Linked DNA regions of Homo sapiens. The protein of the gene in region 2 interacts with the protein of the main gene of each other region in a biochemical or structural test. Each region holds a gene or a part of one and is shown on either strand. Other genes may lie near its edges.

Evidence for each region.
Region 1: the proteins of BRF1 (region 2) and RLIM form a complex in vitro, tested with the Homo sapiens proteins (one study listed by BioGRID).

Annotation. Positions count from the first base shown.
Region 1 is NC_000023.11:74,574,729-74,590,624, forward strand, and holds the end of RLIM (E3 ubiquitin-protein ligase RLIM), read right to left. Parts: 3' UTR 8,248-15,896; downstream 1-8,247. UniProt on the Homo sapiens protein: E3 ubiquitin-protein ligase.
Region 2 is NC_000014.9:105,295,282-105,311,833, forward strand, and holds the start of BRF1 (transcription factor IIIB 90 kDa subunit), read right to left. Parts: upstream 5,721-16,552; 5' UTR 5,349-5,720; coding exon 5,165-5,348; intron 1-5,164.

The DNA.
Region 1 (15,896 bases), on a different chromosome or scaffold from region 2:
TCTGTCTCCTTGCCTGTCATCTTCACACAAACCTGGTAGAATTTCTTGGGTATCCAAAGATCATTGGCCAATGTATTCATCTTTTTTTTTTTTTTTTAAGAGATAGGGTCTTGCTTTGTTGCCCAGGCTGGAGTACAGTGGTGTGATCATAGTTTACTACAGCCTCAAACTTCTAGGCTCAAGTGATCCTCTGCCTCAGCCTCCCAGGTAGCTGGGATTACAGACATGTGATGTGCAACCACACCGGGCTATTTATTTTTTTGTAGAGACAAGGTCTTTCTATGCTGCCCAGGCTAGTCTTGAACTCCTGGCCTCAAGTGATCCTTCTTCCTTGGCCTCCTCTGAAGCACTGGAATTACAGGTGTGAGCTACTGTGTAGAGCTTGTTTTCATCTTTATTGAAGCTGGTGCCCCAGTTTATACACTCGTCTTTGAAAAATGTCTGAAAATCACAACCTCACAGCCACTGGAGGTTGGCCCAACCACCTCCTCCCATGCTGGGTAGTACTAATTTTCTACCTTATTAATTATAGTTCAATAAAATGTCTCTACCATTAAAGTGTTAGGAAATTTACATATGTGATCTCTAAGCATCCCAACAAAGTAGGCATCATTACTCCCACTTTGCAGAACTGGGAGTAACTGAGACTCAGAGAAGGTAAGTGTGTTATCTAAAATGATACAGCTTGTAAAAGGACTATGAATCTAAGCCTGACTGGCTCTTAAACCTTTATTCTTTTTCACTACAAATTTAGGTCCCCATTTCAACTCTCCATGGACCAGTTGCTGAATAGATTATTGCTCATTTCTGTAAAGGTCTTGGACCCTTATACTGCCTCTTAGACAAGTTCCTGGGGCCATGTGTCCTTATCCAGACACATTCTAATAATTCAGTTGGATCTCCAGGTGAATAGATTGTTTGAAGGAACAAAGATAGAGGGAAGTTTGAGGGGGGTTGAGCAGGGAAGCCCCCAGGAGTTAACTTTCCTGAGTGTCCTAAATAGGACTAAAGCCCATATCACAGCAACTCAAGAGGCCAGGTTAAAACCAGTAGCTGTTTTCACATCGATTGAACTAGGGCCTCTTCCCAAAACTTATTGTTTAGGCTGAGAAGACACCTCTGCAGATGAGTCAGGCTCCATGGACACTCACCTGCAGCCCTAAAAATCCTTAGACTTTGCTGGGATCCAGAGGGAATGTGGCTATGAAATCACCATCAGATTCACCCCAACAATTAGTGGCATGAAAGAGAGATGAAGTAGGACTGTAAGATGGACCTAATTATCTAGAATAGAGAAACAATGTATGCTATCAAAACAAGCAGAAAAGGAGCTAATTTCCATGTAGCTTGGCCTTCTATGCTGTAGTTAGTCATTGTCTTTCCTTTAGCTCCCACAGCTGCCCCAGAACTTGTGCACCTATGTCTGAAACCCAGAACTAAGAACCTGGACACCAAGATTGGGACCCCATATCCCCACAATAACTGGAAACAGCTAATCCAGTCTCCCATTTGCCTGCCACCAATTGTCTCAGGATGACTTATAATGTAGACGTGCCTGGATCTAGGCAGCTGGATTGGGTGACTGGGCATATTAGCTGTTCCAAAATATATGTTAAATTTACTTGTTGAATTTAGGTTACCCATCAGTAAAATCACTAACAAGTAAAGAAATCACCAAGTGGCATCTAATGAAAAGGATCTGTGTAATCAGCTCTTTAAAAAATTAAGAACTCAGCTGTCCCTTTTCTTCATTATCTGGGCAACCCTTATCCCTACAGTTATTAGCGAAACAAAACAACAATGCTGGCCCAGTTATCAGGGAGAAGCTTGTTTTGTCTCATTTGTGATATTGGGTCCTAGCTGCTAATTTTCTCAGCGATGGCAGAAAAAGGTAATTCAGGTCGGCTGTGGTGGCTCACGCCTGTAATCCTAGCACTTTGGGATGCCAAGGTGGAAGGATTGCTTGAGCTCAGGAGTTTGAGAGCAGCCTGGGCAAAAGGGCAAGACCCTGTCTTAATTTTTTTTTTAAAAAAGGTCATTCAAACCAGATTAGACTAAAATAACACAAAGAGCCACATCACTGTTTATATGAATCTCACAAGCTGAGTTTCTTAGGAAAGGAAGGAAACCTGGAAAGAGAAGTCAAAAGCCTACAGCAAGGCAGAGCTGTCTCCAGGGTACTGGGTACTCAGCTTCCCTGCACTTCCACCTGGGGAAGGAAAGGATAGGTATGGGAAAGTCTTCTGCTGTGGTGTCATGCAGTGGCCCTAGTCAGATCTGTCTTCTAGCCCTGATTTTGCCACTTAGTAGTATTTAAGTAAGAGCACTTCACTCCTACCATTAAGACTCTCCAACAGCTTCTCATCTCAGAATGAAATTCTATCTCCCTTCCTTGGACTATACAACCCTTATGAACTGGCCCTGCCTTAACTTGTACTGCTTCCCCAGTTCAACACTGCCCCTTTTCCTCCTTCCAGATAATGAGCTGAGTCCATTCCCTGGAGTTGGAAGGTTCTGCCTCCATCTATTCATTCAGGTCTCAGCTTGTGATCACCTCCTCAGGTCTTCTCCAACCACCCTATCACATCTCAGTCACAATCACATCACCCCATCTACTTTGCTTCCCAGCATTAAAGCAGTATCTGAATTTGTATTTACAAAAATATTATCTGCCTATCCCTATTAGAACGTAACCTTCTGCCGGGCGTGATGGCTCACGCCTGTAATCCCAGTGCTTTGGGAGGCTCAGGTGGGCAGATCACAAGGTCAGGAGATCGAGACCATCCTGGCTAACACAGTGAAACCCCGTCTCTACTAAAAATACAAAAAATTAGCCAGGTGTGGTGGCGGGCACCTGTAGTCCCAGCTACTCGGGAGGCTGAGGCAGGAGAATGGCGTGAACCCAGGAGGCGGAGCTTGCAGTGAGCCGAGATAGCGCCATTGCACTCCAGCCTGGGCGACAGAGCGAGACTCCGCCTCAAAAAACAAACAAACAAACAAACAAACAAAAACAAAGAAAGAATGTAACCTCCATGATGGCAGGGGTCTTGGTCTTGTTGACCACAGTACCCCTTGTACTTGGAACAGTGCTTGAGACATAGATTCCTAGTATTTTTTTTTGTAAAGACAGGCTCTCACTATGTGGCATAGGATGGTCTTGAACTCCTGGCGTCAAGCAATTTTCCCACTTTCGCCCCCCAAAGTGTTGCCATTACAGGCATGAGCCACTGTGCCCAGCTAAAATATTTTCTTGAATGATCAATACTGGCAGTGGGACCCGGAGCATGTCACTTAACCTCTGATTCTGTTATAAAATGCAAATATCCAATTGCCCCCAAATTGTTATGAATAACATATTAAGAGGACAAATGTAAAAAGGCCAGGCAGCTAGTAAGTATTCAACATATTTTGGTATATGACCTACTCATCAATCTGTAACCATCTCTCTATCTCCCCCTCCCTTTCAAGGCCACACTGGCAGTTCATGTTAACCTTTCAGTGGGAGCAAAGAGTGTGTAGTAGAGTGGTGGTGACTGGAGAGGGTGGGTGGTATAAATTGCAGTATACTTTCTTGTGAGTCTCATGGTACCTCTTTGGAACACTTATAGGTAGATATTTGAGTCATCCACAAAGACGTCAGAGTCAGGAACCTAGCCCACTCATTTCTAGGCTTTGGTTTATAAGCTGGTATTTTTGAACAGGAAATAAGGCCTAAGCCAGGTCTAGTTTATATATGCTGGGCAGTTAACCTATAAGGTATTCAAAATCAAACATACCGGCAAGGTGCGGTGGCTCATGCCTGTAATCCCAGCACTTTGGGAGGCTGAGGCCGGTGGATCACCTGATGTCAGGAGTTCGAGACCAGCCTGGCCAACATGACAAAACCCCGTCTCTACTAAAAATACAAAAATTACCCTGATGTGGTGGTGTGGGCCTGTAATCCCAGTGATTTGGGAGGCTGAGGCATGAGAATCGCTTGAACCCAAGAGGTGGAGGTTGCAGTGAGCCAAGATCGCAAAACTGCACTCCAGCCTGGGCAACAGAGTGAGACTCTCTCAAAAAAAAAAAAAAAAAAACAAAACAAAATCAAACATACCAATAACAATACTGAAGGGAACACCTTGGGGTGGGATAGAAGCAAAGAACAAAATGTCCTCTCCAGCTTTTTTTTCTCTGCAGGTGGTTTTGACCTGTCTTTAAAAGACAGAGAAAGGGTTCAGTCAGGGCCCATGTCTATACAAGGGCTATTAAACAGCACTTATACTAAAATGAAGCTTGGAATGTAATTTCTATTTAGCAGATTAGACTGATTTTCCTGTTTAAATATATAGATGCTTCTGGTCCCCAAAAGTGGGGAAAGGGGATTAATTCAGATGCTGAAGAAGATAACTTCTCAGTGCCTACTGCAGCAAGGCAAAAAAAAGATAGCTTCATTATTAGGGGAAGGTTTCTTTTCCATCAGAGCGATTGGGCAGAATTTGGGCTTAGTTGCTTGCTGAGTTGGTCTCTTGTTTTAGGAACAATCTTGTACCTTCGTGCCAACAGACACTGTTCCATTATTTTCTTTCTTCCAGGAAAGGGGAGGGCCAAGGCAAAACAATGAATGAATTTTCCTGAATTCTTGCCTTCAATCTAGATGGGGTTACACCCAAGATTATTAAAAAAAGAAATAAAAAGAAAAAAGAAAGGCTGAGTGATGTGCTTCTCTGGCATCTTCCAAGTTAGCAGCTGGATTCATGTACTACAGATAGGTTGGAGTCACCCACGCTAGAAACCAACATCTGTCCTCTACTACCAAGTAGGTTTTCAGATTATTTTGTTTGTTTGACATAGAGATAGGGTCTCACTATGTTGTCCAGGATGGTCTCAAACTCCTGGCCTCAAGTGACCCTCCTGCTTCGACCTCCCAAATTGCTGGGATTATAGGTATGAGCCACCATGCCCAGCTGGTTTTCAGATTCTTAAAAAGGCCACAGAAAGTGTTATGTTACACTCACACAGAAAGTACAAACCAAGTCAAACGAATCAGCTTTCTCCAAAACCTCAACTCCAAAGGCTCTTTCTTCAGAGGACTGTTAATATTTCACTCCATGTTGCCAAACAAAACAAAACAAAACACACTTTCAGAAATGACATTAGAGACTTGGTGTTGGAAAATACTTGCTTTCGTTCTGATCTGGTAGCCTTTATTCTCATATTGTCAACTTTTCTCCTTCCACCCCAGAAAACTAACTTGAAACTCACTTAAACATATGCTATCACTTAATACTTAACTACAAAGTGGAAACAGATGGTAAACCCAGGTTAGCTGTTCCTAACAAATGCCAGGAATATTCAAATACAGCTATTTCAGATGAACTGCTTGGAAGTTATTTATTTGTATTATTTTAACATATATTATGAACTGAACTAAGAGAAGCTCTATGTAAAAGTTTGGGTGCTCATTCCTGCAATAAATAAATATAACTGCTATTTATCGGCTGCTATATAACGCTGCAGTTGAGGTGGGCTTTCCTAACTTCTAATCACAGGATCCTCAGCCAGCCAAGTTCTTTCGCTTTTGCTAATTCTTAATAGATTTCAAACTTTGGTATGGAGTGTATGTATGTATGTATTTATTTATTTTTTTGAGATGGAGTCTCACTCTGTTGCCCAGGCTTGAGGACAGTGGCGCAGTCTCCGCTTGCTGTACCCTCCGCCTCCCAGGTTCAAGCAATTCTCCTGCCTCAGCTTCCCGAGTAGTTGGGATTACAGGTGCACGCCACCACACCCGGCTAATTTTTTTTTTTTTTTTTTGTATCTTTAGTAGAGACGAATTTTCACCATGCTGGCCAGGCTGGTCTCAAACTCCTGACCTCAGACGATCTACCCGCCTCGGCCTCCCAAAGTACTGGGATTACAGGCATGATCCACCACGCCAGGCTGGGAGTGTATTCTTTTAACCGCAAAAGGGGACCCGGCACAGTGGCTCACGCCTGTAATCCCAGAACTTTAGGAAGCCAAGGTGGGTTGATTACGTGAAGTCAGGAATCCGAGTCCAGCCTGGCCAACATGGTGACACCCTGTCTCTACTAAAAATACAAAAATTAGCCCAGTGTGGTGGCACACGCCTGTAGTCCCAGCTACTAGGGAGGCTGAAGCAGGAGGATTGCTTGAATCCAGGAGGTGGAGGTTGCAGTGAGCCAAGATCACACCATTGCATGCCAGCCTGGGCAAGAGTGAGACTCTGTCTCAAAAAAATATAATTTTTTTTAAGGGAAGGAGAAAGGTGGTAGTTTTGTAAGCTTGGACAGCTTTGATGCACAATTAAAAGAATGAGGCTTTAGTTCTGGCGTGGTGTAGTTGAGCAGATAAGTTGTGCCTATGCACATTCATAAGCGAACTTTTAAAAGTCAACCCCATTTGCATCCTACCTAATCACATTCCTCCATATTGTTCTAGAGCTGCACTGTTCAATATGGTAGTCACTAGCCACTTGTGGTTATTAAGCATTTGGAATGTGCCTTGTCCAAATTGAAATGTATTATAGGTGTAAAATACTCACCAGAATTTGAAAACTCAGTATGAAAAAAATGTAAATATCCCACTAAAAATTTTTATATTGATTACATGTTTAAATATTTACTGGGTTAAATGAAAACATTATTAAAATTAGTATCTTTACACATTACCTTTTGTAATGTGGCTGCTAGAAAATTTAACATTATATGTGGTGATGCATTATATTTCTACTGGACAGTGCTATTCTAGAGCATTTGGTGCATACAGAAGACAAATTGTGAATTTTAAAAAGTAGGTACACCACAGTCACCAACACTGTCCACTGAGAAACTCAGCGATATTTTAGACTTCAGGTCCCCACCCTACCTAAGACACAGGGAAGAGAAACCACAGACCAGCAGAATGCCAAGGATGTATTAATAGTAGGAGCAGAATACACATTTATCTCCTGAGGAAACAAATGAGATTCAGATGAGCCCTTATTCACCCATGAACTTTTACTCCTCAAATACCTACTAGATCTAGCAGTTACAACGTATTTGAATGGAGATGGATAATTACAGTATGTACATTTCTTAAGGTTTTGGTACTATTTTATCTATTTTTTGTTTTTGAGACAGAGTCTTGCTCTGTTTCCCAGGCTGGGGTGCTGTGGCATGATCTCAGCTCATTGCAACCTCCGCCTCCTGGGTTCAAGCGATTCTCCTGCCTCAGCCTCCCAAGTAGCTGGGATTACAGGCATACCCTACCGCGTGTGAACAAATCAAACAGGGTTGCTTTTCGCAGTGGTTCATAAAGTTGTTTCTAAAAGCTATTTAAACAAGTTCCAAATATCTTCTCAGCAATAAAGTTCTTGGAATGCTGATGGCTGCCCAAGGCAACTTAAAGTGCATTTTCTTGCATACCAATAAGCTGGCTGGCATATATATACATATACACACACGTATATATACAGACGTGTATACACACACACGTATACATATATATATATATACACACATATATATATTTTTTGTTTGAGACGGAGTCTCACTCTGTCACCAGGCTGGAGTGCAGTGGCGCTATCTCGGCTCACTGCAACCTCCGCCTCCCAGGTTCAAGCGATTTTCCTGCTTCAGCCTCCCGAGTAGCTGGGACTACAGGCGCATGCCACCACATCCAGCTACTTTTTGTATTTTTAGTAGAGGCGGGGTTTCACCATGCTGGCCAGGATGGTCTCGATCTCTTGACCTCGTGGTCTGCCTGCCTCGGCCTCCCAAAGTGATGGGATTACAGATGTGAGCCACTGCACCCGGCAGGGCATAGTTTTTAAAAAGCTGCAATTTGAATCTTTCTAGTCATTTCATATTTCAAATTGTCATAATTGGGGCCAAGAGCACACGTAATAAGGGGCTGAGATGACCATTTAACAATTCCCCAATTTTTGTTTTTGTTTTCACTGTTAAAGAGGAATTTTTATTAAAGCAAGAATTTTATAATCCAAATTACGTTTCCTTGCTCAGTTATTAATTCTGTTACTTAAAACAGAAGTGACATTTTGAGCTATTCCACAGTAAAGAATTACAAAATTAAAGAAAGGAATGTTTTATATTTTTGTACTTTGCTGAAAATTCTTTTTCCCAGGGTCTATAAAACACTAATTTGTTTCTATATTTTACTATTTTTTTTGTGTTTTTTGTTTTTCAATCAATTAATCTAGGACTAGCATTATGTTTGCTAGACCTGGCATTTGCTCGGTACATACGGTTCAGTTTCCTTCTTTTATATTTTGATATTTTTTTCCATATTTAAGTTTTTCGATGTTTAGATATTTTTCTTTGGTGAAGCACAAGTTTCTTTTCGTGGTCCCTGATCAATTTTAAACAGTTGGAACACCGGTGGCACTGTTAACTGCTTTCTGGGCAGTCTCTTTAGCTTGGTGGGCTTGTAGTACAGCTACAGCTTCATCAACCTTAGAATGGAGTGACTCTGGAGACTTGAGCATATGAAGAAGTTCTGAATTATCAATCTCCAACAACACGCCAGTGATTTTACCGGCAAGAGTAGGGTGCATGGCTTGAATAAGAGGAAACAGCCATTCACCCAACATTTGCTTTTGCTCTTGAGGGGCAGATGCCAACATGGAAACAGTCAAAGGTTCCTGACCTTGTACATGAATAGCAGGCTGTTGCACTGTAACTTGTGGCTGTGCATTAAGATGTTGCTGAGGATTGCAAACTCCCGCAGCATATTTATACTGTGGAACGGTGCGGACAGCAGGAGTAGCTGCAGCAGCTGTAGCTGCAAGACGTGGACCCATTGTCTGTGTTGATGAATTCACCAAATTTTTATTCCAGTCTATTTTGAGACTTCTGGAAATAAAACACCTTGATACCGTTTGCCCTAGGGCTGATTACAAGGTACACTTAAACTGCTAAAATGATAGTTCATGTTATTCATAGTGCTAAGGTGTATCTGGTAATGCCCAGTGCTTTACTGAATTTACAGTATATTACCATTAATCCTCCAAAAAACAAAAAAACAAAAAACAATTTGCGGCCGGGCGTGGTGGCTCACGCCTGTAATACCACCACTGTGGGAGGCCGAGACGGGCAGATCATGGGATCAGGGGTTCAAGACCAGCCTGGCCAACATGGTGAAACCCTGTCTCTACTAAAAATAGAAAAATTAGCTGGGCGTGGTGGCGGGCGCCTGTAATCCCAGCTACTCGGGAGGCTGAGGCAGGAGAATCGTTTGAACCCAGAGGCAGAGGTTGCAGTGAGCCAAGATCGCACCATTGCACTCCAGCCTGGGCGACAGGGCGAGAATCCATCTCAAACAAACAAAAAAATAAACAAAAACCAATTTGGCCTTTTTTTTTCTTGGCAAACCAGCCAAAACTGATGTTTTTCCTAAGAAATCACACCTCATAAGCAATCTAGTCTAGGGCTTGGGATAAATACTAAGAAACAAATTAGAAGTCATATAGTAGTGGGATTAAGAGCACAAGGAAGATGACTGCATCAAAGATGATTGCAAATAATCTGCTACTTACTATGTGACCTGGGCAAATTACCAAACATCTGTATCTCAGCTGCATTACCTATAAAATGGGTGGTATACTTTCACCTCACAGTCACTGTGATGATTAAATAATTTATATAGAATACTTAATACAATGCCTGACAGCAACCAGAAAAGTTTAGCTAATTTAATTATAGTTAGTAATCCATGCAAGGCCTTATAGTTAAATCTTGTCTAAATTCAAAGACCTCAAAGAAACTGGACCCTTGCTTTCTTATTTTTTAAAATGACCATTAAGAGTTCAGTTTATAATCCACCCAGATTTATCGAATCCTTTCTTCTAGGTATCTGGGGGTTTTTTTGAGACAAGGTTTTGCTCTGTAACCCAGGCTGGAGTGCATCAGCATGATCATGGCTCACTGCAGCCTTGACCTCCCGGGCTCAAGTGATTCTACCACCTCAGCCTCCCAAGTAGCTGGGACCACAGCTGTGTACCACCACACCTGGCTAATTTATGTCTGGATCCTTTTCACTGACCTAAGATGCCTGTGCTTTGGCTTCATTGTCTAGAGCACTAACTTTTTGATGGTGGTATTGAGTTTCAAATAATAAAATCATGAATGACACTAAACTTAAAACCTTGGGAAGGTCATGAGTTGAAGAGCTGACTACATCAAAACTATCCTGAGAAACCGAGTTATGATGCCAATGACAGATAGCTCTGCAGGCACCAGAGGAAATGAAACTATAATACAATACACCAGGTGTCACAATGTGACGATTTACTTGAAACAAGGACATCTTAGTGGCTTAAGCAATATGTTTAAGAGATTAAGATAGAAATGGAAGACAGAAGTACAAGCACACGTGCACACCTACAAGTTTTTGTATATATACAGGGCAAGCAAGGGAGTGGTCAGAGCAATGGCGAGAATACAAGAAACAGCAAAGATGCGCCTACTTAAAATGTCATTCACATAAATCTTTCCAGGATTCTTGTATTGGAATATAATCTTTTATTTTACCACTCAACGATTAAGCCATTCAACTACACAACACAGATAAAACGGAAGTTATAACATATAAACCAGTACCTGCCCACACTCATAGCAGTGAGGGGAATAAAAATCAAGGTTGCACTGTAATTCCATGACTCTAAAAATCAAGTCTATTTGACATTGGTTTGAAGCAACAGAACCTTTATAGCAGATTCCCCTTTTTAAAGAAAAACCCAAGGAGAGATGATCAAGCACAAATGATCACTTCATGCATTTTATTGATAGTCTATATTTTAAATCTGCAGTATGACATCTTACATAGGGAAAAAAGCTTCTTCCTAAAAGATAACTATTAATAATCAAACCAGCTTTAATATGATTGACCTTTCAAGGTCTTGTTTTGCTTTAAACAAGTTAACTTTTAGCAGTTGTAAAGCACTGTACAAAAGAAAACTGTGTACATTCTCAAAATTTAATACAGGGCTTCCCAACCAGGAGTCTGCTGGATAGGTATCGGAGAAGGGTGTTATGTTCAGGTTTAAATTGAAAGAAAATGAGAAACCAGATAAAGCAAGCCAACCAAATTAACTTCACTTTGTGCTCCTCTCTGCTTTTTTGAGTCTCTCCCGAAGGTCAGGAAGCCCTGGTATAACAATCACTTTAGTCTTTACAGAACATACATCTATGTGCTTTGTGACCAAAGACATAAAGGCAGCCTTTGTTACTGTTCCCCCTCCAAACCCCTTCAGGTTCTTATAAGCTTCAGAAAGCTTTCCAAGATTGCTGCCCTGTTCTTTGTATGAATCCAAGTAAACAACTATACCAAAGCAGCTCTTCCTGGGAGAAGATAAAACAGGCACAGATACATCACCAGGCCAACTGCGTACCTACTCAACTTGATACCTGATCACATGGCCCTACATCCTTAAAAGCAGCACCAGGGACAAATGGAGCTATCAAGAGGTAAAATCCAAACACTGGACAGTTAAAACACATACAAACCAGTTAAAAGAACATTAGTAATGGGGCACTAAATAGAGTTAAGGCTGGACAGCTGGTTCAACCATACCTTGGTATTGAAATAATTCTGCAAGATGAGGAACTTACAGAGGAACCTTGAAAGAGGCACCATGATATGACAGGGTTCACTTTCACTGCATGTCTTTAAGATATCTACTACTCAGCCCAACTGACCATAAAGCAGCTCGTGGAACTTTAATAAACAAATCCTAATAAAAATAAATAATTTTTAGAATGTTGGAGGGTATGCCTATTTCCTTCAGATCTGATCAAGACATGAGAATTATAAAACCGATACAAACTGTTCTGTGATTATCACTTGACAGTTCTAACACTGTTATACAGCTCAATTCTATGCTGCAGCCTTTAAGATACAAACTGGGGTTACATGAGATCACTCACTTGTTAGAGAAGTATCAGATAAATTTTAGAACTGTTCCAGTTAAGGAAAATAATTCTTAATTTCATAATCCTAAAACTTTTTCTAAAAATTTTTGCAGGGCAGGTACTTAACTCATAGCTGTTTTAGTTGATTAAAAAATCTGATTTAAAAATAAGTAAGGCTGGGCGCAGTGGCTCACGCCTATAATCCCAGCACTTTGGGAGAATGAGGCAGGCAAATTGCCTGAGCCCAGGAGTTCAAGAACAGCCTGGACAACATGGCGAAACCCCATCTCCACAAAAAATTAGCCAGGCAATGTGGTGCATGCCTGTAGTCCCAGCTACTTGGAAGGCTGAGGTGGGAGAATCACCTGAGCCCAGGAAGTCAAGGCTGCAGTGAGCTGTGACCATGCCACTGCACTCCAGCCTGGGTGACAGAGCAAGACCCTGTCTCAAAAAGTAAAAAATAAAATAAAATAAAAATAAATAAGTGACATACTAGTTCCTCGGATCTTTTACTTTTTTCCAAATGAAGTATGCTGTCAATTTACATTTTTCATGTTTTTTCAAAAGCACACAATTTACTAGTTAACTCAATGAATTACAATACTGTTATTGAATATAAACATACTGAAGAATTAAAGGGAAAAAAACACACCTGACACTTTAACATGTGCCTTAACAATCTTGCATACTAAGGTACAGAATACTTCAGAAAGTAACAATTAGCATAGTCTTATAAGACTAGGAGAATAAAAGTGCCCTGCAAACATGGCTTCTATGTACTTAATATGGTAAAACATGTGACAGGGAAGCCTGTAAGGTAAAACTTAAAAAAAAAATCAAATAAGGCAGATTATAATTTTTTTTGTTCGCAAAAGAACAAAGGAGAAAAGGGGAAGAATAAAAACATTCTCCATCTTTAAAAGAAAAAATATTAACAACCATAAGGTGCCACTGTATTTTAGCAAGCTGTAAAAATGGCCTTTTAAGAGGAATTTTGCAATCTTTACCTCCCTATCATTTGGGTATTTTGGGAACTGACCGAAAGTCATGGCTGATGCTTCACCCATTTCATGTCATGGACGCCTGGGAAGCAGGTAGTTAAATACAAAGCATATTATGTGATAACCCTTCATAAATATAATTTGAGACACTGACACTAGGAGAGGATACTTGGCACAGAAAAGACATGTTATGGGGCGGGGGACACATTACTTGAGGCAACACTTACAGCCAATCAGTTTCCTAATCTTAAGGTTTGGATGAATTCCAATCGTTTTTAAAAACTGTGTGTGTACACACACATATTTTATTTCCTGGTGCTAAAGGTCTTATAAACTGTACAATTACCTACATTCCAACACTAATGTGAACACTTTTCTCAATCCCCACCTCCATTAACACCATTAAGGTGTAACTAACATGTTCTTTTCAGAGCAAATATTCCAAATTAACAAGGTGGCTCATCTTCTATAGTGTTGATACAAAGTCAGCAAACTTTTAACTTAACTTGCTCAATTTTGTTTCTAATAGTACTAATAAACCTCAACTTTGGCTGGACATGGTGGCTCACGCCTGTAATCCCAGCATTTTCGGAGGCCGAGGCAGGCACATCACTTGAGGTCAGGAGTTCAAGACCAGCCTGGCCAACACGGTGAAGTCCCCATCTCTACTAAAAATATAAAAACTAGCCAGGTGTGGTGGCATGCGCCTGTAATCCCAGCTACTCGAGAGGCTGAGACAGGAGAATTGCTTGAACCCAGGAGGCAGAGGTTGCAGTGAGCCGAGATCGCTCCATTGCACTTCATCCTGGGCAACCAAGTAAGACTCTGTCTCAAAAAAACAAAACAAAACAAAACAAAACAAAAAAACCTCAACTTTGTCAGCTGCTCAGAGTTAAAACAATTCAAATGTTTCAGACTAGAAGTGAGTTTTTAAAAACATCTGAAATATTCAAGAAAATTTGGGTTTTGGTACTTTTCCTTATGCTCTGAACAATGTGAACTCCCAACATTGTTTATCCTTGTTCCTCTTACTGCATGAAGTTCAAACTAGGTCTTAAAGACAACTTTTCTGTACTTAAGAAAAAGTGCAAAGATAGAAAATGAAATGTAAGGTGTTTTGCAAGAAATGCTCCCTCGAGAATGGTGTTTGGATGTGGGTGGGGGGAAAACGATTTTTGTTCTCCATTGTAATCTGACACCTACGAATGACCTTGTCTTCAATGTCCACAACACTAGTAAGCATGTAATAATCACGGACATCGCAAGATTAAAAATTAAGTAGCAAATTCCACTAAAACACTTGTATTCATTCTATACAATCGAATGGAAATCCGTGAGTGCTACTGAAAAAGGTGTTCACATGCACATGTCCAATATGTGCATTCCACTGAAGGCTAAAAGCTTAAAATTCTATTTCCAGTGTTTATGAATAGCTTCAATATCTACATTCATAGCCAGCATTCTGCTTGAGTTACCTCTTACTTTAATACTTCACAAATGAGTAAGTACGTCTTGGGAGATTAGGAAGGTACCTGTTGTCAATAACTTTCTCTTATGCTTAGAATGTGCTGCAATTGTTTTTAAACTATTTAAAATGAACACCCCTATAATAATGAAACACTTTATGCCAAGAAGAAAATTGATTTGTTTTTAGCCAATCAAGACTACCCTGCAGATCTGAAAACTGTAGATTACATCCTTAGGAAAGGAGAAAAGGAGGCTCACAAATATAAAGGAATCCTGACTTTTACACGGACAAATTTTTAAAAAGATAAAATGTATTACATAAGCGCCATAAACAGTGAAATCTGCTTATATTAAAAAAAATAAGTGAAGCTTTGTTTGGACATTATTTCCTTGCAAGAGCAGTACATATCCTTAGTAAACAACTACCATATTTACAAGTTAATTTCCTTGATACTTAGATAGGATTGAAAGCCAGAAGAAATCATGGAAGAGTGAGCTTTGAAATAATCTTTACAGCTAAGTTGGTAACAGTGAAGGTACCCAGACAATTCCTAAAGCAGACTTGTTTATTTTGTAGAGTATTTGACTACGTCTGGGTAGCTAGCTTGCTTTGATAAAGGCCAAGGACAAGTTCAATCCCTATTTTGGCCTGTTAAAGCTTTTCCCAGAAGAACAAATATCTGCTCCATAGTCATTCTAATCCTAACCCCAGCTAGTCTCAAAAAAGAAATTAGGCAAGAAGACTGGGGTTATCATGAAGTTACTCTTACTACTAAGAAACCAACATAAAGTGCATGTCCATAGATAGCGAGTCAGCAGTCTCATTTTCATATATGGGCAGCACAATTAAAATTTGAATTTCAAATAACCCAACATGACTTTCAACAAAGGATAAAAATCCCTTAATCTTCAACTGGTCTTTAAATTTGAGATGTTAGGACTGTGTTAGAGATAGTAATGAAATATGATCAAGTGTGCACTGGTACCTTAAATGACAAATCTCAAAAACAACACAAATTCGAGACTTTCCTATTAACACACACATGTGTACCAACTGCAATTCATATGCTAAAAGTGGTTTTATAGTCTCTTTCCTCCATTTTTTCATTTTTGAGGAGCAGACTTGTAAATTTAACTTGTGCTAGGTAGTAGTGGTTTGTTTTTCTTAAACCAAAACTCTGCCAAACTTGCTGATCTTCTGCTTCATCTACTCAGGTAGAATACCAGGTCAAGCTGCTGCTGTGGCTGCTCTCACCATATGAAACCAGTTTGTGTCTGCATTATTACTGTCTTCAGGAAAACTTTAAATTCTTCAGTTTTCTTTACTCCTCCCATATTTCACTTCCTGCCTAAATCCAAGTTAAATTATACAATTTCCACTGGTCTTCAACACGGTTTAATTCTGCACTGTCCTTTCCTTTGCATGTCACAGTAGCTGTTCACACATTAAATATTATAGATATGTTCTGCTCTTGACATCTACACACTTACAAAAGCAGCTTTGTACTTTGTTTGGTGT
Region 2 (16,552 bases):
CAAAGCAAGACCACATCTCTACAAAAAAAAAAAAAAAAAAAAAAAAATTGGCGTTGGCTCACACCTGTCATCCTAGAACTTTGAGAGGCCAAGACGGGAGAATTACTTGAGCCCAGGAGTTCCAGACGAGCCTGGTCAACATGGCAAAACCCCATCTCTACAAGAAAAATACAAAAATTAGCTGGGTATAGTAGGGCGCACCTGTAGTACCAGCAACTCAGGAGGCTGAGCTGGGAGGGTCACTGGAGCCCAGGGGGTTACGACTGCAGTAAGCCATGACCACTGCACTCCAGCCAGGGTGACTGAGCAAGACCCTAGACCCTGTCTCCCCAACCAAAAAAAAATTTTTTTAATTAGCTGGGCATGGTAGTGCATGCCCGTAGTCCTAGCTACTCTGGAGTCTCAGGTGGAAGGATCTCTTGAACCCAGAAGTTCCAGGCTGCAGTGACCTGTGATCACACCACTGCACTCCAGTCTGGGCAACAGTGAGACTTTGTCCCAGAAAAAAAAAAAAAAGCTGGGTGCGGTGGCTCACGCCTGTAATCCCAGAACTTTCAGGGGCCAAGGCAGGTGTATCACTTGAGATTAGAAGTTCAAGACCAGCCTCACCAACATGGTGAAACCCCATCTCTACTACAAATACAAAAACCAGCCGGGTATGGTAGTGGGCTCCTATGTAATCCCAGCTACTCAGGAGGCTGAGGCAGGAGAATCGCTTGAACCCAGGAGGGGGAGGTTGCAGTGAGCCCAGATTGCGCCACTGCACTCCAGCCTGGGCAACAGAGCGACACTCTATCTCAAAAAAAAAAAAAAAAAAAAAACTCAAGGAGTGTATTAAAAACTCTTAGGGGCCAGGTGTGGTGGCTCACACCTGTAATCCCAGCACTTTGGGAGGCCAAGGCGGGTGGATCGCCTGGCCAACATGGCAAAACCCCATCTCTACTAAAAATACAAAAACTGCGGCCGGGTGCAACAGCTCACACCTGTAATCCCAGGACTTTGGGAGGCCGAGGTGGGCGGATCACGAGGTCAGGAGATTGAGACCATCCATGTAACCCCGCCTCTGCTAAAAATACAAAAAATTAGCCGGGCGTGGTGCTGGGCGCCTGTAATCCCAGCTACTTGGGAGGCTCAGGCAGGAGAATGGCATGAACCTGGGAGGCAGAGCTTACAGTGAGCCGAGATTGTGCCACTGGACTCCAGCCTGGGTGACAGAGCAAGACGCCGTCTCAAAAAAAAAAACAAAAAACTTAGCTGGGTGCGGTGGCGGGTGCCTGTGATCCCAGCTACTTGGGAGGCTGAGGCAGGAGAATCTCTTGAACCTGGGAGGCGGAGATTGCAGTGAGCCAAGATGGTGCCACTGCACTCCAGCCTGGGCAACAAGAGCAAGACACCAGCTCAAAAAAAAAGAAAAAAAAAAAAAAACCTCTTAGAACAAGTAAGTTTAGCAAAGCCATAGGAAACAGGACAACACACAGAAATCAACCATATTTATATAAACAAGCAATGAAGAGTTGAAAACTAAATTAAAAAAATTCCACTTATAATAACTCCTAATAGAGCTTAGGTACACATCTAAAAAATGTCCAGAGGGCCAGGCACGGCAGCTCATGCCTATAATTCCAGCACTTTGAGAGGCTGAAGTGGGGGGGGATCACTTGAGGTCAGGAGTTCGAGACCAGCCTGGCCAACATGGTGAAACCCTGTCTCTACTAAAAATACAAAAATTAGCCAGGCGTGGTGGTGGGCTCCTGTAATCACAGCTACTTGGGAGGCTGAGGCACGAGAATCGCTTGAACCCAAGAGGCAGAGGTTGCAGTGAGCCGAGGTTGCACCACTGCACTCCAGCCTGAGTGACAGAGCGAGACTCCATCTCAAAAAAAAAGTCCAGAAGCTGTATGCTGAAAACTACCCAACACTGACAGACTATATCAAAGAAAATCTAAATGAATGCAAACATACACTGTGTTCCATGGACTACAAGATTCAACATAGAAAAAATGTCAGCTGGGCACAGTGGCTCCCACCTGTAATCCCAGCACTTTGGGAGGCCGAAGAGGGCGGATCACGAGGTCAGGAGTTCGAGACCAGCCTGGCCAATGTGGTGAAACCCCGTCTCTACTAAAAAATATACAAAAATTAGCTGGGTGTGGTGGCGTGTGCCTGCAGTCCCAGCTACTCAGAAGGCTGAGGCAGCAGAATCACTTGAACTCGGGAGGCGGAGGGTGCAGTGAGCTCAGATCGCGCCACTGCACTTCAGCGTGGGTGACAGGGTGAGACTCTGTCTCAAAAAAAGAGAAAGAAAGAAAAAATGTCAGCTCTCCCTAAATATATCAAGAGGTTTAATGCAATTCCAATGAAAACCCCACCAGGACTTTTGTACAGGTTGAACATCCCAAATCCAAAAATCTGAGATTATAAATGCTCCAAAACGGCCCGGTGCAGTGGCTCACGCTGGTAAACCCAGCACTTTGGGAGGCTGAGGCAGGTGGATCACGAGGTCAGGAGATCGAAACCATCCCGGCTAACACGGTGAAACCCCGTCTCTACTAAAAATACAAAAAATTAGCCGGGCGTGGTGGCGGTCGCCTGTAGTCCCAGCTACTTGGGAGGCTGAGGCAGGAGAATGGCGTGAAGCCAGGAGGCGGAGCTTGCAGTGAGCCGAGATAGTGCCACTGCACTCCAGCATGGGCAGCAAAGCGAGACTCCGTCTCAAGAAAAAAATAAAATAAAAAATAAATGCTCCAAAACATGAAACTTTTTGAGTATCAACACGATGCTCAAAGGAAATGCTCACTGGAGCATCTCAGATTTCAGATTTTTCGATTAGGGATGCTTAACCAGTAATTATAATGCAGATATTCCAAAATCAGAAAACTCTGGTATCCAAAACACTTCTGGTCCCAAGCATTTCAGGTAAGAATATGTGACCTGCAGAGATGCACAAACTTACTCTAAAATTAAAAAGAGAAAGGGAAATTAATAGCCACAACAACTTTGAAAAGGAAGAACAAAGGTTGAGGGACTCACAATATCTGATTTCAGGACAATATAACAGGTATAGTAAAAAAGCGTGTGATGCTGACAAAGGAAAACGGCACCTGATCAACAGGGCAGGACACAAGGCCCAGAGACAGACCTGCACGGACGGGGCCCAGTGAGCACAGCCGAGGGAGCAAAGGCCTTCAGTCTTTCAACAAACGGTGTTGAAACAAGGGGACCTCCAGATAAACAATGAGCCTCAGCCTACAAAGCACACCTTATACAAAACATAGATGGACCACAGATTTAGGCCAGGTGCGGTGGCTCGCGCCTGTAATCCCAGCACTTTGGGAGGCTGAGGCAGGCGGATCACTTGAGGTCAGGTGTTCAAGACCAGCCTGACGAACAGGGTGAAACCCTGTCTCTACTAAAAATACAAAAATTAGCCAAGTGAGGTGGCGCACGCCTGTAATCCCAGGTACTTGGGAGGCTGAGGCACGAGAATCACTTGAACCTGGGAGGCAGAGGTTGCAGTGAAACGAGATTGTGCCACTGCACTCCAGCCTGGGCCACAGAGCAAGATTCTGTCTCAAAAAAAAAAAAAAAGTTAAAACTTCTGCTTTGAGGCCGTGCGCAGTGGCTCACGCCTGTAATCCCAGCACTTTGGGAGGCCGAGGTAGGCGGATCACGAGGTCAGGAGATCGAGACCATCCTGGCTATCACAGTGAAACCCCGTCTCCACTAAAAAATACAAAAAAAATTAGCCGGGCATGGTAGTGGGCTCCTGTAGTCCCAGCTACTCGGGAGGCTGAGGCAGGAGAATGGCGTGAGCCTGGGAGGCAGAGCTTGCAGTGAGCCGAGATCGAGCCACTGCACTCCAGCCTGGGCAACAGAGCAAGACTCCATCTCAAAAGAAAAAAAACTTCTGCTTTGAAAATCACATATACAACAAAGGGCTTGTAACTACAATCCACAAAGAACTCCCAAAACTCAACAATAAGAAAACAACCCAAATAAAAAATGAGAGTCAGGGTGTGGTGGCTCACGCTGTAATCCCAGCAATTCGGGAGGCCAAGGCTGGAGTATCACTTGAGCCCAGGAGTTTGAGACCAGCCTGGGCAACATAGAGACCTTGTCTCTACTAAAAATAAAATAAAATAAATGATCACAGCATGGTGGCATGCACCTGTAGTCTCAGCTACTCAGGAGGTTGAGGCAGGAGAATTGCCTGAGCCTAGGAGTTCAAGGCTGCAGAGAGCCATGACTGGGCCATTGCACACCAGCCTGGGCCACAGAGTGAGATCCTGTCTCGAGATAAATAAAAAAATAAGACTTGAGCACACATTTCAACAAAGAGGATTCGGGCATGGCAAATAAGCACCCTAATAAGGTTGAACATCACTAGCCAGTAGAGAAATACAGAATACCACTATGATGAGATGCCACACACCTGTTAGAACAACCGAAATAAAAACATCGACAACACCAAGTGCTGGTGAAGATGTGGGGCAACTGGTGAGAATGCATAATGGCACAGCCACATCACAAAACAGTTCATGACAGTTTCCCATAGAGTTACACATACAGCTAAGTTCCCCAGAGAAATGAAAACGTATGTTCACACAGAGAGCTGCAAATGAATCCTTTTAGCAGCTCTATTCACAACCACCTGAAACTGGCCACAGTCCAGCTCCTTCCACAGGCTGGGGTCCATCCCCAGCCCGCAATACTGCCCATCACTGAAACGTCCCCTCCGAGGCCTGCAGCAGCCTGAGTGGCCCTAGGGCATCCGCCCGGTAACCACCAAGGCCAAGGGCAGCAGCAATCGGATTCTAAGTACCAGACATTGCTGAAAACAAAACTGCAGGCACAGAGAGTGACAGTGAGGGGCAGCTTGAGGGGCCTTCTGGGCTCCCCAGGCTCTCTTCAACCCTCCCTGTGCTGGCTGCCCTGGCCCACGCGTGTGTCGAGGAAGTCCACGCACGCCACGGGGGTCCACAGGCGCGCGAAGAAGGTCTACATTCTCGCCAAGGGGATCCACACTCGCGCCCAGACGGCGCAGAACCGCGCGCCCCGACAGAGCGTGCGGTACCGAGGCGCTGGTCCCGGCCGCGCCGTCACCGCCTCCAGCCCGCCTAAGCCGCACCGAGAAATCCGCGCAGCGCCAGCCCGCGGGACTCACCGTCCAGGGACACGAACTGGCCCACGGCCGAGGAGCCGCCGCCGCTGCTCTCCACGAACTGCACCTCGGACACGATGATGTTGTCCTCCAGCACTGAGCCGCAGGCGGTGCACACCGCGTCCCCGCGCGCCGCGTCCAGCTCGATGTCCGTGCCGCCGCAACCGCGGCACACGCGGCCCGTCATGCCGGCGACCGCGCGGGCAGCGCCCGGAGCCTCCCAAGACTCTCAAGCCACCCGAGCCTCCGGAGCAGCCCGCGCCGCCCGCCCAGGCCCAGCCGCCCAGGCCTCGCCGCTCTCGCGAGGCCCCGCTCCAGCCGATTCGCAGCCGCAGATTCGCCGCGCGCGCCCGGGCCGCGCCGCCCGCAACGGCCGCGCCCGCGGGATGGGACAGGCACCGGGACCACGGCGGGGACGCGAGGACTGGAGCCGCGACCTCCCCACTGCGAGCGAGCTGGCCTCCCTTGCGGCGCGCCGGCGTCGGAGGGGCGACCTGCGGGGGCTGGGCTTCGGCGGAACCCGAGCGGGGCCTACCGGTGAGCGCAGCCGAGGACTGGCGCTTGGGGGCGGGGCCACGGCGGTGAGCGCAGCCCGGGACTGGAGTTTGGGGCGGGGCCTCGTCGGTGGGCGACACCGGGGACTAGAGCTAAGGGTGGGGCCTCGCGGTGAGTGCAGCCGGGGACGGGACCCAAGGCTGGCGACGGGACCCAAGGCTGGCGACGCGACCTAAGGCAGTGGGCGGGCCCTTGGCGATGAACGCAGTCGGGGACTAAAGCTGGACGCGGGGCAGAGGAGGGTCCTCCTCGGATAGTGAGCGCGGTCTCCAGCGGCGAGCGAGGCCTGGGGTGAGGACTCAGCCGGATGCGGGGCTGAGGGTGGGGGGCGGGGCCTCCCGTGGAGAGACGGCCTGCGAAGGGAACTGGAGCTGTGGGCGGGGGAAGGGGGCGGAGCCTGGGTCTGGACCCGAACTGTGGGCGGGGCTTGAGGCGAGGGGGCCGAGCGTGGTGGGCGGGGCCTTGGCTCCTGAGGGCGACCTGGGACCCAACCCCGGGCTCTGGGAGTGGTGGGCGGGGCCAGGGCAGCTGCGCTGGGGGGCCTGGCCGCAGAGGTGGAGACACCCGCCAGGGGCCACCCTGCCCCGCCCTCCGCATTTGCGGCGTCCGCCGCTCCGCTCGCCCAGGTTCCAGAGCCTCCCCGTGCGCCCCGCTATTCTCCGTTTTCTGTTCCCCTAAAATTCCCACTTTCTAGCAGTCATTCGTGGCCACCTGTGGTTACCCGTGAGTCACCTCGCTGTGCCCCCTGCCCAGAGCGGGAACCCTGGCTGCGCACGCCCTCAAATATCTGCAGGTGCTGTTCACAATCGCCATAGGGCCGGTGACATACCCAGGAATGAGCCTAAAAAGAAATGCGTAACCAGGCGTAGTGGCTCACGCTTGTAATCCCAGCACTTTGGGAGGCCAAGGCAGGCGGATCACGTAAGGTGAGGAGTTCGAGACCAGCCTGGCCAACATGGCGAAACCCCGTCTCCACTAAAAATACAAAAAAATTAGCCAGGCTTGGTGGTGGGCGCCTGTAATCCCAGCTACTCGCGAGTCTGAGACAGGAGAACCACTTGAACCTGAGAGGTGGAGGTTGCAGTGAGCTGAGATCCCGCCATTGCACTCCAGCCTGGGTGACGGGTGACAAGAGTGAAACTCTGTCTCAAAAAAAAAAAAGAGAAAAAAGGAAATGCGGAAGACCCCACCCTCTTTTTTTTCTTTCTTTTTTTTTTTTTTTTGAGACGGAGTCTCTGCTCTGTTGCCCAGGCTGGAGTGCAGTGGTGAGATATCGGCTCACTGCAACCTCTGCCTCCTGGGTTTAAGCGATTCTCCTCTCTCAGCCTCCCGAGTAGCTGGGATTACAGGTATGCACCACCACACCTGGCTAATTTTGTATTTTTAGTAGAGACGGGGTTTCTCCATGTTGGTCAGGCCAGTCTTGAACTCCCGACCTCAGGTGATCCGCCCACTTCAGCCTCCCAAAGTGCTGGGATTACAGGCATGAGCCACCGTGCATGGCCCTATTTCATTAATTTCTGCTCTCATTTTTGTTAGATCCTTCTTTCCACTTAATTTGGTTCAATGTGTTCCCTTTTTCTAGTTTCTTCATTTTTTAAAAATTGAGATAGTGTCTCATTCTGTCACCCAAGGTGGAGTGCAGTAGCATAATCAAGCCTCACTGCAGACTCTACCTCCTGGGCTCAGGTGATCCTCCCACCTCAGCCTCCCGAGTAGCTGGAACTACAGGCATGTGCCACCACACCCAGATAATATTTTTTGTAGAGATGGGTTTTTGCCTCATTTGCCCAGGCTGGTCTGGAACTCCTGGGCTCAAGTGAGCCACCCGCCTTGTCTTCCCAAAGTGCTGGGATTACAGGCATGAGCCACTGCTCCCCGCCCTGTCCTCCCAAAGTGCTGGGATTACAGGCATGAGCCACTGCTCCCCGCCCTTTCTCTAGTTCTTTTTTTTTTTTGAGATAGAGAACACCCAGGCTGGAGTTCAGTGGTGCCATCTCAGCTCACTGCAACTTCCACCTCCCAGGTTCAAGTGATTCTGTCACTTCAGCCTCCCAAGTAGCTGGAATTACAGGCATGTGCCACCACGCCCAGCTAATTTTTGTATTTTTAGTAGAGATGGGGTTTCACCATGTTGGCTAGGCTGGTCCCAAACTCCTGACCTCAAGTGATCCACCTGTCTTGGTCTCCCAAAGTGTTGAGATTCTACACGTGAGCCAATGCACCCGGCCCCTTTTTCTAGTTTTTGTTTTGTTTTGTTTTTTGAGGTGGAGTCTCGCTCTGTCACCCAGGCTGGAATGCAGTGGTGCGATCTTGGCTCACTGTAACCTCCACCTCCCGGGTTCATGCCATTCTCCTGCCTCAGCCTCCCAAGTAGCTGGGACTACAGGTGCCCACCACCATGCCTGGCTAATTTTTTGTATTTTTAGTAGAGACAGGGTTTCACTGTGTTAGCCAGGATGGTCTTGATCTCCTGACCTCGTGATCCACCTGTCTCGCCCTCCCAAAGTGCTGGGACTATGGGCGTGAGCCATCGCGCCTGGCCTTTTCCTAGTTTTTTAAGGTGAAAGATGAAATCATTGATTTAAGATCTCTTTTCCTTTATAAATAGGCATTTTATTGCTATAATTCTCCCTGTAATTACCACTTTAGCTGAATCCTGCACATTTCAATGTGCTGTGTTTTCATTTTCATTCAGCTCAAGATTGTCTCCACTCTTAATTTCCTCCCGGATCCAAGGGTTATTAGGAAGTGTATTGTTTTGTTTCTAAATGTTGGGGATTTTTCAAATATGTATTATTGATCTCTATGCAAAATGCTCTCTGTCCATGATGACATTTCATCCTTATGGCAACACTAGCTTGCAGACACTGTTGTCTCCATTTTATGGAGGGAGCCCTTGAGGATGTGAGGGGTGACAGCCCCAAATCTCATAGCCAGTAGGTAACAAAGCCAGAATCCAATCTGAGGCCATGTGGCCACTGGATCCTTGCTCTCACCTGACAGACTAGAGGGGTTATTTCGTGTGCTCCCTCACCAAAGCCTGTGAGGTGCCTGCAGGTGCAAGGGGCAGCATGCCTCCCAGGCCACAGCGGTGCAGGACAGTCAGGCAGTACAGGACAGTCAGGCTGTACAGGACAGGATTGGCCAGAGGAGCAGAGGGTGGGGAAGACCACACCCACAACGGTAAGAGGTTTAAAGGGTGTGGTTTCAGCCAGGCTCGGTGGCTCAGGACTGTAATCCCAGCACTTTGGGAGGCTGAGGAGGGCAGATCACGAGGTCAAGAGATCAAGACCGTCCTGGCCAACATGGTGAAACCCATCTTTCCAAAAAATACAAAAATTAGCAGGTGTGATGGTGGGCGCCTGTAGTTCCAGCTACTCGGGAGGCTGAGGCAGGAGAATTGCTTGAACCTGGGAGGCGGGAGTTGTGGTGAGGCGAGATGGCGTCATTGCACTTCAGCCTGGACGACAAGAGTGAAACTCCATCTCACAATAAATAAAATAAAATAAAATAAAATATAAAAAAGGGTGAGGCTCTACTGGGCAATGGCCCAAGGTGCGTGCTGCCAGAACTAAGCCTTTGCTCAGATGGGCTGCAGAGGAGGGGTGCTATGGTCTGAATGTGCATTGTATCAGTCTGTTTTCACACTGCTGATAAAGACATACGTGAGACTGGGCGATTAACAAACAAAAGAGGTTTATTGGACCTGTAGTTCCACGTGGCTGCAGAGGCCTCACAATCATGGAGGAAGGCAAGGAGGAGCAAGTCACGTCTTACGTGGATGGCAGCAGGGAGAGAGAGAGCTTCTGCAGGGAAACTCCCTCTTATAAAACCGTCAGATCTCGTGAGACTTATTCGCAATCACAAGAACAGCACGGGAAAGACCTGCCCCCATGATTCAATTCCCTCCCACCAGGTCCCTCCACAATATGTGGGAATTCAAGATGAGATCTGGGTGGGTACACAGAGCCAAATCATATCATGTGTGTTCCCCCAAAGTCCATATGTTGACGTCCTTGCCCCAAGGCGATGGTTTTAGAGAGGTGGGGCCTTTGGGAGATGAGGTCATGAGGGCTGCTTCCCTCATGAGCGGGATTAATGCCCTCAGAAAAGTGGCTGGCTGGGCACAGTGGCTCACATCTGTGATCTCAGCACTTTGGGAGGCTGAGGAGGGAGGATTGCTTGAGTCCAGGAGTTTGAGACCAGCCTAAGCAACATGGCAAAACCCTGACTCTACAAAAACTACAAAAACTTAGCCGGTTGTGGTAGCATGTGTCTGTAGTCCCAGCTACTTGGGAGGCTGAGGTAGGAGGATTGCTTGAGCCCAGAAAGTTGAGGCTGCAGTGAGCTGAGATCACACCACTCCACTCCAGCCTGGGCGACAGATTGAGAACCTGTCTCAAAGAAAAAAGAAACAAGAAAAAAGAAAAAACGTGGCTGGAGGGAGCTTGTCTGCTGCTTCCCCCATGTGAGGATGCAGGAAGAGGGCACTGTCTATGAACCAGGAAGTGGCCCTCACCAGACACGGCATCTGCCAGCACCGTCCTGTGAAATGAATAGTGGTTTATAAGCCACTTGGACTGTGGTGGTTTGCCATTGCAGTGTGAACCAACTGAGGCAGGGAGTAACGCTCCCCACGTGATGTGAAGGCATAAAGAATGGAGCCAGGTTAGAGGGAGAATGCGGAGAACTGCCCTGGGGACCGGTTAGGTGCCCCATGCTGCAAGCGCCCCAGGAAGCTTGGAAACATTTAGGACTGACTGACAAGCTCAAAGAGTCAAGCAAGGGCGGCCAAGGGGCACCAGTGCCCTCAGAGCACCCACACTGGGCACCCAGCACCAGCTTCCTGTGCCCAGGGTCCTCTGTACTCCTCATTCAGCCCTGCAAGGCAGGACCCTCACTCGCACCGCGCCAAAGAGGACGCTGGAAACGTGCAGTGATCTCCGCTCTGGCTGTAAACAGGGAGAGGCTGTGGGCTTGCCCCTAGACCTGACTCCAGCACACAGCAGCAGAGCGGGGCCCAGGCTGGGGGTGTGGGGCAGGAACATTCCTTCATGGGGGCCCCAGAGAGCTGGAAAGTAATGTAGGTGTTGCACTGAAATGAGAGAATTGCTTTAATCTGAACTGAACGTGCTCGTAACACTTAGACCAGGAAGGATTTCCTTTTCTCAGGGCCTGAGAAAAATGACCTGACCAGCAGGGTTAGAGTTTTGAAGGACACGCCTAGGCACCTGCAAACTTCCCCTCCTGGAGGCTTTCTTCATTCATGGTGTCTTTTGTTTTTGGGTTTGTTTTGTTTTGTTTTGTTTTGTTTTGTTTTTGAGACACAGTCTTGCTCTGTCCCCCAGGCTGGAGTGCAGCGGCGCCATCTCGACTCAGTGCAACCTCTGCCTCCCAGGTTCAAGCGATTCTCCTGCCTCAGCCTCCCGATTAGCTGGGATTACAGGTGCATGCCACCATGCCCGGCTAATTTTTTGTATTTTTAGTAGAGATGGGGTTTCACCATGTTGGCCAGGATGGCCTCGATCTCCTGACCTCGTGATCTGCCCACCTCAACCTCCCAAAGTGCTGGGATTATAGGCATGAGCCACCACACCTGGCCTGTTTTTTGGGGGTTTTTTTTGAGACTGAGTCTCGCTGTGTCGCCCAGGCTGTAGTGCAATGGCACGATCTTGATGTACCGCAATCTCTACCTCCCGGGTTCAAGCAATTCTCCTGCCTCAGCCTCCCAAGTAGCTAGGATTACAGGCACCTGCCACTGCGCCCAGCTAATTTTTGTATTTTTAGTAGAGTCAGGGTTCCATCATGTTGGCCAGGCTCGTCTTGAATTCCTGACCTCAAATGATCCATCTGCCTTGGCCTCCCAAAGTGCTGGGATTACAGGCGTGAGCCACCGTGCCAAGCCCCATCGTGTTCTCATCTGTGGTGCTTTGACATCTTGGGGTCTCGTGGACCTAGAGAGGGACTCCCCTCCCAGGGTTAGCTAATTCCTAGAGACAGCTGACCACTTGCCTCTGAGTATGCCTTATTTACTTTATTTTTTCTTTTTTTCTTTTTTTTTTGAGGCAGGGTCTCACTCTGTCACCCAGGCTGGAGTGCAGTGGTATGATCATAGCTCACTGTCGTCTCAAACTGCTGGGCTCAAGAGATCCTTTGGCCCCAGCCTCCCAAAGTACTGAGATCCCAGGCTTGAGCCACCGTGCAGGCTGAGCATACCTTTGATATGCAGAGCAACCATCATGAGTCCCACCTGCCTCCTTTCATCAGGCTCCTGCATTCCTGAACACTAGCCCCCTGCCCTAAATCACCCCAAGGCCAGGTACCAGCTAGCTAGATACCACCCCCAAGCCCAGAGCCCACTGAAATGACCCAGTTCTAATTCTGCTCAGCTTGCCTCCTCTGCCTTGCCTGGAAAATGGCAATAAAGGCTCTTGCCCACCCTTTCCCTTCACCCCCTCCCTGTCCTGACTGGCCCTGGGTGCTTCCCCACGTGCCCCTCCTCCTGGGAACTGTGAGTAATAAACTCCTCTTTCAAAGGCGGTTGTCTCTGTGTCTGTCATCTTATCACATTTGATCAAAATAACTCCTGGGTACTCAATAGCCCTGTCCCCCCATGCAGCAGTCAGCAGGGGAAATGAGAAAGCAAGCTTCTATGGCCTTCTCACCTTCTCACCTGCTGCCTGGCCTTGGGCAAGTGCTTCAATCTCTCTAGGTTTCTACTTCCTCATCTGCATAACAGGGATAAGAATAGCCCACCCTAGCACTGCGGAGTATGATGGAGGACATGTGTCTGGTAGACAGACTGCTCAGAAGGCAAGTCCCTGTTCCTGTCTGTTCTCCGCAACTCGAGTGAGACTTGGTGAGGCTCCAGTCCACCTTCCACCACAGAAGTCAAGGGCCAGGCCAGGACAGTGGCTCACGCCTGTCATCCCAGCACTTTGGGAGGCAGAGGTGGGAGGATAGCTTGAGCCCAGGAGTTCGAGACCAGCCTGGGCAACAAAGTGAGATCCCTGTCTCTACAAAAAATTTAAAAATTAGCTGTGCGTGGTGGTGCGTGCCTCTAGTTCAGCTACTTGGGAGGCTGAGGCAGGAGAATCGCTTGAACCCAGGTGACTGAGGCTGCAGTGAGTTATGATCACACCACAGCACTCCAGCCTGGACCATAGAGTGAGACTCTGTCCCCCCCAAAAAAACAATTAGGCCGGGCACAGTGGCTCACACCTGTTATCCCAGCACTTTGGGAGGCTGAGGTGAGAGGATTGATTGAGCCCAGGTGTTTGAGACCAGCCTGGGAAATATGGCAAAACAGCATCTCTAACAAAAATACAAAAATTAGCCAGGTGTGGTGGTACATGCCTGTGGTCCCAGCTACTCGGGAGGCTGAAGAGGGAGGATTGCCTGAGCCCAGGAGACAGAAGTTGCAGTGAGCTGAGATGGCACCATTGTACTCCAGCCTGGGCACGACAGAGGCAGATTCTGTCTTTTTTTTTTTTTTTTTTTGAGATGGAGTCTTGCTCTGTCGTCCGGGCTGGAGTGCAGTGGTGCAATCTTGGCTCACTGCAACCTCCGCCTCCTGGGTTCAAGTGATTCTCCTGCCTCAGCCTTCTGAGTAGCTGGGATTACAGGTATGAGCCACTGTGCCCAGCTAAGTTTTGCAGTTTTAGTAGAGACAGGGTTTCACCATGTTGGCCAGGCTGGTCTGGAACTCCTGACTTCATGATCCGCCTGCCTCAGCCCCCCAAAGTGCTGGGATTACAGGCATGAGCCACTGTGCCCAGCCATGACTTTGTCTCTAAATAAATAAATAATTTTTTAAAACCCTTAGGGACCCAGCACAGTGGTTCACACTTGTAATCCCAGCACTTTGAGAGGCTGAGGCAGGAGGATGGTTTGAGTCCAGGAGATCTGGCCTACAGTGAGCCATGATGGCACCACTGCACTCCAGCCTGGTTGACAGAGCAAGACCCTGTCAAGAAAACAAAAGAAAAAAAAAGAAAAAGACAAACAAAACCTAACAAAACCAGAAATCCATCCTGCACGAAGAGCACTGAGGTTGAGTGTTGGTTGACACGTGTTGCGGTAATTGCTGTTCTGATGTCTGTGAATGTCCTTGGCTGATTTCTGTATTAGGGCCTGGGTGTTTTCCTTTCTTTTCTAATATTTAAGTTATGTCCTGGCTTATTGTGATGATATTCTATTGTGGGAAAGAAAGAAGTGTTAAAATTTATGCATCAAGGTCCCTCTTAATCTTGGGGCTCAGGATAACCACAGTCAAGAGGGGAGAGTTTTATTCCTGAATCCAGGTCATGCTGTGTTCAACTTTACACCCTGATTTGTCACACAATCACATATCTGAGAATTTCCCCATGTTGCTAAAACTGAGGCAGCGTTCCGTTTTGCTGGTTATTCCACATCCCATGGGGTGGATGTGCCAGGGCAAGTTTTGTCATTTCCCCTGGACTGGACATTCCTTTCTGTAGGTGTTGCTGTTTGAAATATCTCACACACCTGGACCTGTGTCCCTGTTGACATTTCCAGTGTCACCTGCAGGATGCCATGGGATACCCATGAGCCCAGGCAAATCTCCCAAGACGCTGCCAAGCCACTCTGCAGAGCTGCTCTGGGTCCTGCCCCAGGTGCTGTGTGAGGGAGCTGCGCTGCCTGCGCCCAACCCAGGAGGGGAGCAGCGTGCAGGACACCGAGGATGTCATCACGACCTTAGGTCTGTATTAGGTCTAGATTAGCCTGCATTAAGGAGAAGGTGGTGATGTGTGTCTTTTTTTTTTTTTTTTTTTTTTTTTTTTAGACGGAGTCTCACTCTCTTGCCCAGGCAGGAGTGCAGTGGCACAATCTCGGCTCACTGCAAGCTCCGCCTCCTGGATTCAAGCAATTCTCCTGTCTCAGCCTCCCGACTAGCTGGGACTACAGGCGCCCGCCACCACACCCGACTAATTTTTGTATTTTTAGTAGAGACGGGGTTTCAGTGTATTGGTCAGGCTAGTTTTGAACTCCTGACCTGGAGATCCACCCGCCTCGGCCTCCCAAAGTGCTGGGATTACAGGTATGAGCCACCGCACCCAGCCATGTGCATCTTTTTATAATTTACAATTCGTGATAGTAGTGACAACTGTCTCACTTATTCTTTTGTGAATCTTTTGTAGCTTCTCTAACCATTTTCCACTGGGAATTTTTTAGTGGTCTTATGGACTTGTATGATTTCCTTTGATATTAAGAATGTTACCCTAGTGAGCCAGGCACAGTGGCTCACGCCTGTAATCCCAGCACTTTGGGAGGTCGAGGCGGGCGGATCATGAGGTCAGGAGATCAAGACCATCCTGGCTAACACGGTGAAACCCCGTCTCTAATAAAAATACAAAAAATTAGCCAGGCGTGGTGGCAGGCGCCTGTAGTCCCCCCTACTCAGGAGGCTGAGGCAGGAGAATGGCATGAACCCGGGAGGCAGAGCTTGCAGTGAGCTGAGATGGCACCACTGCACTCCAGCCTGGGCGACAGACAGAGCGAGACTCTGTCTCAAAAAAAAAAAAAAAAAAAAAAGAATGTTACCCTAGTGAAACATTCAGTATTCTTACAAAGATCATCCTCAATAGTTTGTTGCGTTGGGTGAGGGTTCCCTTTGCACGTTTGGTTTTTTCAGGACGGGGCGCAGCCCCAGCCAGATGGCGCCCGGCTCTCCAGCCAGCGGCAGCTCACCCTGCTGTGGTTTGATTTTCCCTACACAATTAATACATGTTCATCATGGAGAAAATAGGAGATAAAGATAAGCAAAAAGGAGAAACCAAATCAATGGAATCCCCATCACACAGAGATACTTTCTTAACACTTTGGATTAATTTGTATCCTATCAATATTTTTCTATACCTGAAAATAGGTGTTTTATATGTATAATCACTAACATGTAAATACATACTGCACATGGACATGCATTTTCACATACATTTTTGTTTTCTTGAGACAGAGTTTCACTCTTGTCACCCAGGCTGGAGTGCAGTGGCACAATCTTGGCTCAATGGAACCTCTGCCTGCTGGGTTCAAGCGATTCTCCTGCCTCAGCCTCCCGAGTAGCTGGGATTACAGGCGCGCACCATCATGCCCCACTAATTTTTTGTATTTTTAGTAGAGATGGGGTTTCACTATGTTGGCCAGGATGGTCACAAACTCCTGACCTCAGGTGATCCACCCACTTCGGCCTCCCAAAGTGCTAAGATTACAGGCATGAGCCACTGTGCCCGGCCTTTTTATTTTTATTTTTTGAGATGGAGCCTGGCTCTGTCCCCCAGACTGGAGTGCAGTGGTGTGATCCTGGTTCACTGCAACCTCCACCTCCTGGGTTCAAGTGATTCTCCCACCTCAGCTTCCCAAGTCACTGGGATCACAGATGCGCACCACCATGCCCAGGTACGTTTTTGTATTTTTGTTAGAGATGGGACTTTGCCATATTGCCCAAGCTGGTCTTGAACTCCTGAGGTCACGGGATCTGTGCGCTTTGGCCTCCCAAAGTGCTGGGATTACAGGTGTGAGCCCCTGCGACTGGCCTGTTTTTAGCTACTTTTAACTCACTATTTCTGCCAGCTGTAGAATATTCTATCAGGTTCTATCATGGCTCACCTAACCCTGTTCTACTCTACAACCCCGGGGTTGATTCCAGGCCTCACTCTCAGCAGTTGAGCTGCTCTAAGGGTGACCGTGGGAACTGTCCACAGGTGCGGCTGCGGGTGCAGCGATCTCAGCGGTCTTAGAGCTCTTGGCCATCCCCCACATGGCTTCCCAGAAAATGCCTCCAGGAGGAGGGCCCTGCTGTACCTTTTTTGTGAC